Homo sapiens: one gene and its partner. Each later gene encodes a partner of the first gene's protein in a complex. Each region holds a gene or a part of one and is shown in the gene's direction. Other genes may lie near its edges.

Evidence for each region.
Region 2: the proteins of PHAX (region 1) and NCBP1 are in contact, whole or in part, in a cryo-EM structure (PDB 8PNT), measured with the Homo sapiens proteins. Residues at the interface, in NP_115553.2 of Homo sapiens: Ile114, Asn115, Asn116, Ile117, Trp118, Gly119, Val121, Leu122, Glu124, Gln125; in NP_002477.1 of Homo sapiens: Cys380, Lys381, Pro384, Pro388, Gln389, Leu391, Ala392, Thr395, Phe417, His420, Leu421, Asn423, Phe424, Gln425, Arg427, Trp428, Ser429, Asp432.

The regions. Positions count from the first base shown.
Region 1 is NC_000005.10:126,598,572-126,602,316, forward strand, and holds the start of PHAX (phosphorylated adapter RNA export protein), read left to right. Parts: upstream 1-2,375; 5' UTR 2,376-2,391; coding exon 2,392-2,487; intron 2,488-3,745. UniProt on the Homo sapiens protein: A phosphoprotein adapter involved in the XPO1-mediated U snRNA export from the nucleus.
Region 2 is NC_000009.12:97,631,592-97,635,336, forward strand, and holds the start of NCBP1 (nuclear cap-binding protein subunit 1), read left to right. Parts: upstream 1-2,229; 5' UTR 2,230-2,290; coding exon 2,291-2,324; intron 2,325-3,745. UniProt on the Homo sapiens protein: Component of the cap-binding complex (CBC), which binds cotranscriptionally to the 5'-cap of pre-mRNAs and is involved in various processes such as pre-mRNA splicing, translation regulation, nonsense-mediated mRNA decay, RNA-mediated gene silencing (RNAi) by microRNAs (miRNAs) and mRNA export.

The DNA.
Region 1 (3,745 bases):
TTTGAAAACTGCAAAGCCCTGTAGAAATGAAAATGCAGTGGCTAAACTCAGGACACCTTAAAACAGTTCTGTATTAAAAGTGGCAGAGGAGCCAGGTGCTGTGGCTCACGCCTGTAGTTCCAGCACTTTGGGAGGCCAAGGAGGGTAGATCAGGAGTCAGGGTGGTCAGGAGTTCAAGACCAGCCTGGCCAACATGGTCAAACCCCGTCTCTACTAAAAATACAAAAATTAGCCGAGCCTGGTGGTGCATGCCTGTAATCCCAGCTACTCGGGAGGCTGAGGGATGAGACTCGCTTGAACCCAGGAGGCAGAGGCTGCAGTGAGCCGAGATTTTGCCACTGCACTGTAGCCTAGGAGACAGAGCAAAACTCTTGTCTCAAAAAGAAGAAAGAATTTAATAGACAGGAGGCCACCCATGCCACGTGGGAGACAGAGTTATTACTCAAATCAATCTCTTGGAGAATTCAGGGACTAGTGTTTTTCAAAGATAGTTTGGGGAAGGGATGGAGTGGCTAAGCAATGGGTTCTTGCTGCTTATTGGTTGGGGATGCAGTCATAGGGGTATGGGAAATTGTCCTCAAGCAGCTCGACAACTTCTGTGTGGGAACCCAGAAGCGGTTAGAGGTTCAGGTGGAACCATTGGTAGTCAGACATGCAAAATATCTGAAAAGATATCTCAAAACGCCAATCTTAGGGTCTACAATAGTGATATTATCTGGAAGAGTAATGGAAAAGTTGCATACCTTGTGACCTCTGGGATAATGACTGGCAACGGTTTATGTCTACACCTTAGCAGAATTCAGCCTCCTTTATCCGTCTACCCTGGTGGTCTCTTACTAGCTTTACAAAGGCGGTTGGCTTTTGGGGAAGGGTTATTATCATTTAAACTATAAACTAAATGTCTCCCAAAGTTACATTGACAGGCCCAAGCACAGGAATAATTAAGGGCAGCTTGAAGGCTAAAAGCAAGATAGGGGTTGGCTAGATCAGATCTCTCCCACTGCCATAATTTTCTCACTGTTATAATTTTCGCAAAGGCGGGTTCCAAGATAACCCTTAAAGAATGGGGTGGGTTGAGGGAAGGGCCTCTCAGGCCGAGTGAACAGCAAATGCAGAGGCCTGGCCTGAGGAACAACAGGTTCAGCGCGCCAGCGGTTAGGCAGGGGGACACACTAGGACCAGTGACCAGATGCCCAGTCCACATGACCTTGTTTGCCATGTGGCAAAGTAAAACAGAGGTTCCTCTTCAAAAACTTTCCTCCCCGTCTAATTAGGAATAAATAGTAACTTCTCTTAAAAGCAAAATTTATTCAAAGATCTGTGCTAACATTCTTAAATATCTGCTAGCCATAATAAAAAAAAATGTACTTTATGTTCTTAGCTCCCACAATTTAGCCTAAATATTTGCCCTGGCATGCTTTTACTAGTCCAAGCAAGCATTAGGTCATAGCCTGTTCCTCTTCCTTATTTAAAAGTGTTTTCATCTTTCTCAGCATTCCACAAGTTACTTCCTCCTTCCTTTGTTCTCCTCTACCTTTGCCTCTTTTAAAAAGTTCTAAGTTGCTAGCCAATCGGGACAAATACAAAATGTGAGGTCCGGTCCAGCCAATAAAAACCAGCCACAGCAGTAAGGTAAACACGTCAGGTTATAAATGACCCTGTCTCCTTTTGTTCAGTGTACTCTCCTGGCAAAACTGCTGGCGAGTGTACCCTTTCTGCAGAAAGTAAAAATGGCCTTATTCAGTAAGTTAAATTTATGTTGCTATTTCTTTACGACACCGGAAAACAAACATTTCAAACACCATGCTGAGAACTCAGTCCTTGTTTTGGGGAGGGATGCACTTGGAAGATTCGAGCTAAGGTACAATCCTCCCTAGGTATCCGCGGGTCATTGTTTTCAGGACCCCCACAGATACCAACATCCGCCATGCTCAAGCCCCTTACATTATGTGGGGGTGCACGGTGGGTCCTTCCCATCCGCAGGTTCGGCATCCGTGGATGGGGAGTGGATACAGAGGGCGGACTATACAGCTTGAAAGGCTTCCCTGGAAGCAATATGTAGAGTGGATTGTGGAGGAGCAAGAACAGAAGCGGGGAGGCTTGTCCAGAGCATACAGGGGAAGGATGTACGGCCAAGGGAGGAATCCCAGACGACCGCGATACGTGACATATTTATGTTTGCACGAAAATAAAGTTTGGAAGAAAAGTGTTGGGGGAACAAGGGATTCATTTTCCCGGGGTAGTTGGAATGCAATGGGACGCCTCAGGCCGCTGGGACAGGCTGGCCTCCGCGCGGGGGCGCCCGAGCAGCCGAGCCGCCGGGCCTTCCGGCTGCCCCGCCGGAAGTGCTCTCCTGACCCGCCGCTGTGCAGCGCAGCGCACCGCGGGAAGATGGCGTTGGAGGTCGGCGATATGGAAGATGGGCAGCTTTCCGACTCGGATTCCGACATGACGGTCGCACCCAGCGACAGGCCGCTGCAATTGCCAGTGAGTGTGAAAGGAGGGTGGGTGATCGTGGCTGGGCGCGCGGAGCCTGGGCCCCGGGGAGCGCGCAGGCAGCGGTGAGGGTGAGGGGTGGGAGCTAGGAGCCCGGGCCAGAGCGAGGAGCCCAGGCTGTCGGGTCAGTGGCCGCAGAAGGGGCGAGCAGACGTCCCCCAGGCGGGCTCACGGAGCCCGGGCTGCGGGGGCCGAGGGGCGAGGGGCGACGGCGGCAGCGGCAGCGGCTGGCCGTGCGAACCCCGAACTGGCTGCTCCCTGCGAGGCGGGGCGCGCGAGCCCTGGCGCCTCCTGGAGGCCGGCTTGCGGCGGCCTCTTAGACGTCTCACCTCCGCCTACCGCTCTTTCTTTTCTAAACTTGGGGCTTCCCCACTCCATCGCCGCTAGGTAACCATAAAGGGGCAGATTTTGCCAAATATGTAGCATCTAGGGACATCAGCCTGAAACAGCCTGTGATGCTCATTTTCTCCCTGAGCCGAAGGGAGACTGAGGCCCAGGAATGAAGTTTATCGCTCACTCAAAGATCTGGTTTTCCATGTTTCCACCGAACCTAGCTTTGTCATGCGGTACCATGGCACTAGGCTTTTGCATTAGCCTCTCTGATTTTGTTTGTTGTTTTGAGGTGGTCTCACGCTGTTGCCCAGGCTGGAGTGCAGTGGCGCGATCTCGGCTCACTGCAACCTCCGCCTCCCGGGTTCAAGCGATTCTCCTGCCTCAGCCTCCCGAGTAGCTGGGATTACATGCGCCCGCTGCCACGCCCGGTTAATTTTTGTATTTTTGGTAGACGCGGGGTTTCACCATGTTGCCCAGGCTGGTCTCGAACTCCTGACCTCAAGTGATCGGCCTGCCTCGGCCTCCAAAAGTGCTGAGATTACAGGTGTGAACCACGGCGCCCGGCCACATCCAGCTAATTTTGTATTTTTAGTTGAGACGAGATTTCTCCATGTTGGTCAGGCTGGTCTCGAACTCCCAACCTCAGGTGATCCGCCCGCCTCGGCCTCCCAAAGTGTTGGGATTACAGGCGTGAGCCACCTCGCCCGGCCTAATTTTTGTATTTTTAGTAGAGACGGGGGTTCTCCATGTTGGCCAGGCTGGTCTTGAACTTCCGACCTCAAGTGATCCACCCGCCTCGGCCTCCCAAAGTGCTGGGACTACAGGCGCGAGCCACCGCGCCCGGCCCAGCTTCCCTGCTTTCTAAACGGGAATTTGTCTTGACTGCCTTGGTAGGTAGCAACCTCTTTGAGAGGGC
Region 2 (3,745 bases), on another chromosome or scaffold:
GCACAGAGGCTCATGCCTGTAATCTCAGCACTTTGGGAGGCCAGGAGTTCAAGACCAGCCTGGCCAACATGGCGAAACCCCATCTCTACTAAAAATATACAAATTAGCCTGGTGTGGTGGCGCATGTCTGTAATTGCCGCTACTTGGGTGGCTAAGGCACAAGAATTGCCTGAACCTAAAAGGCAGAGGTTACAACGAGCCAAGACCGTGCCACTGCACTCCAGCCTGGGCAACAGAGCGAGACCCTGTCTCAAAAAAAAAAAATCATACTCCAATGACTTCTCAATTCACTTGGATAATGTCCAAAGTCCTCACAGAGCACCTTCCCCCTACCTCTCTGATCTCATCTACCACTCTCCCGTTGCTCACTACCTATGATGGCACTATTTGTGGGTATTCCTGAATGGGTCGTTAGAATATATCAGCGCCAAGAGAGCAGGGGTTTTCCTTTGTTCACCTCTACATCCTCAGCATTCAGAACTCTGCCTGGCACCTAGGAGGTGCTAAATGCTAATAAATATAATATTCGTTGAATGAAATAAAACAGTGATTGGGTAACCAAAGAAGGCCTCACTAAGGACCTGACATTTGAGCTGAGACCTAAGTGACCAAGAGCCAGCCACGCAGATTTAGAACCAGAGACCTTCAGGTAAAGGAAATAGTATAAGTTCCTAAAATAAGAACAAGCTTGACTTATTGTAAGAACAGAAAGAGTGGTTGGAGTACAGTGAGGAGAAGTAGAACCCCACAGGCCATGGCATGGAGTGTGCAATGGAAAGTCGTAGGAGACTTTTTTTTTTTGACACGGTCTCACTTTGTTGCCCAGGCTGGAGTGCAGTGTGCGATCACCGCTCACTGCATTCTCGACCTCCTGGGCTCAAGGGATCCTCCCACCTCGGCCCCCAACCCTCCCCTCGAGTAACTGGGACTACAGGCGCCAAACACTAGGCTCAGCTAATTTTTTTTTTTTTCCTGTAAAGACGGTGTTCGCCTTGTTGCCCAGGTGGGTCTTGAACTCCTAGGCTCAAGCGGATCCGCCCGCGTCGGCCTCCCATAAGTGTTAGGATTACAAGCGTTAGCTACCCCGCCCGGCCGTCATAGGAGACTTTTAAACAAAGCAGTAACACGATCTGATTCTGGATTTGTGTTGAAAGCAGAGCAGGCAGGGTTTACAGATAATTGTTATGTAAAAAGAGGGAAAAGAGCTAAGAAAGACTCTAAATTTTTGGATTAAGCGGCCGACGGATGACGTCATTTACTGAAATGGGTAAGACCGAAGGAGAATTAGGCCGGGAGAGTGAAATTTCAGATGGCCATGGACAAAGCAGATAAGCCAGTATGGTGCTCATAAAGACATCAGGGGAGGGGACGCTCACACACAGGCATATAGGTACCCAATAACCCTTGAAAACAGATTACTAAAACAATCATTTGTTCCTTCCTAAGCAAACAACTTAAGGAAAATGACGGCCAGCCGGCAAGCCCGGAGCCGCACGCTCGCGTCAGGGCCGGCCTTTCCATACCAAGGGGCGGCACGTGCGGCACCGCCTCCCGCCCAGGCCCCACCCCGCATGCCGAGCTTGGCCCAACCTCTCCTCCCACTTTTCCCAAGGCGGCAAAAGCCGGAAAGTGGGAGTAGATGAGCACATACCCGCCAGTCCTGATCCTTTCTAAGGTCTCTCTTCCCTGCACTGTCTCCGCCTAGCAATTGTCACTGCTCACCGCCCTCGAGCCTATTCCCCCGCCGCGTATTTGGGTAGAAAAGCTCGCTCGTGACGTCACCAAGCTCCGGAAGTCTCCTGGCGTCGGCGCAAGGGCCGCCGGGAAAACCATTGAGAGGCCACCGGGAAACCATTGAGAAGCCCCGGAGGACCGGCCTGAGCGGAGGCGGAGACTAGAGCGGCCGCCGGCACGACCCGCCTTCAGGCGTACGACGACCGCGGCCCGGGGGCTCTGAGTGGCCAAAGCGGCGGCACTTTCTGCGTGGCCCCGGAAGGACATAGAGCGGAAGGCGGGAGAAAGAAGTAGCCGGCAGGCGGAGGCAGCCCGAGGGGGCGGTTGCATGTGTGCCAGACGTTCGTAGCCCACTGAGCTTCCTCACGCCGGCTGTCGCAGCGCCTAGCCCCACCCGGCGGCCTCTCCTGCGCTTCCGGGGCCGTGGCGAGCTAGTGCGCCTGCGTGCCGGCCCATCCGCGCGCCTTGCAGCTGTCCTTGCGTCGGCCAGCGGCCAGACAGTTCCTGCAGCGCTTACCGCCTGGCCTCTCGGTTCCGCGGCGCACCGGAGGGCAGCATGTCGCGGCGGCGGCACAGCGACGAGAACGACGGTGAGTGCCTGCGGCCCGGCCACGGAGGCCGCTCCCGGTTGGGAGCCGAGGCTCGGCGTCTTTGGGTGTCCACGGAAGAGACTGGAAGCTCTTCTCCCCGGGAACGTGCGGGGAGCCGCGGAGGGAAAGAGGAGAATATGGTGGCGGTGTGGTCGGGCGGCTTCTAGAAAGCGACTTCTCCCCCGCCCCAGTTCTTTGAGTCAAGGGCCGATCCTCGGGAAAGAAGGCCTGGTGAACCCCATGGGTAGACCCTTGGTCTCTAAGGATGCTTCAGAATTTCGTCCGTAAAACCACGGAGCAGGGAAGCACACCTGTGTCTGTGCTGCCGCCTCTTAGGGACCCACTGGTCCTAGTGTCTCGTTTTAACCTTCAAAGCTGCACCTGAAAAGGGCTCGGAAGAATTCACTGAAGGAAAGGACTGAGAGATCTCATGAGTTGCAGTCTGAACTCTGTTCCGGTAGTGGTTATCCGTTGATTTCACTTCTTTCAAGCTGCAGGGAAAGAATATTGTCTTACCTGCGCCCAAGAGGTCCCTAATAAACAGACACAGGTTACTGCAGATTTTGAACTGGCCGTAAGCGCATTTCCCTTGTGTGAGAGAGAGTGCTAGAAAACTAACTTCAGGCCTCTGAGAGAGTTAGAACAGGGGTTCCCATCTCCGTTTGGATGATTGTGCTCGTGGAGATCAGTGTTGCCTTCATAAAGATGGAATAATTCTAGTTTTAACAACAACAAAAAAAAGATGCTTATATTACACATAAGCCTTACAATCGGTCAAAAACACAAATCCACACACCAAAAAAGTAAAACTTAGAGTAATTCTATTGTTAACATTTTAGTGTATTGTTTTTTGAAGAGAGTGTATAGTAGTGGTTAAGAGATGAGACTTTGGAACCAGAGGGTTTAGGTTCAAAGCCAGACCCTACCATTTACTTGGTGATCTTGTCCAGGTTATGAAATCTCCTTAAACTTTAGTCTGTAATACAGAAGTAATGATATTTATATCTTCTGGTTTTTGTGAAGGTTAAATGAGGTAATACACATCAGCAACAATGATGTTTTATCATTTGCCAACGCTTAAGAGGCGGTAAACGTTAGCAGATGCTGTCAATGTAAGAAAAAAACCCATAACAGACATTTTAAATTGAGTAAATTTTATCTACTAACGTTTGTCTCTCCTTGAGTGTTGTGGCAGTTGAGGTGGAGGCAGAATCGCATGCATTTAGTTTTAATAGTGAAACACCAGATTTCTACGAAGGAATGGCTTGAGAGGATATTCTAGTCCAGCTTTCTATCTGACACCTAAGGGTCTAGAGACTGAGCATAACTAAGATGGAGGGACAGCTGTCAGTTCCCAAACACCAGCAAGAGCGAATCCAGTCCGGGGCTCTCTTCACTACACAGGTATAAATTAAATAACT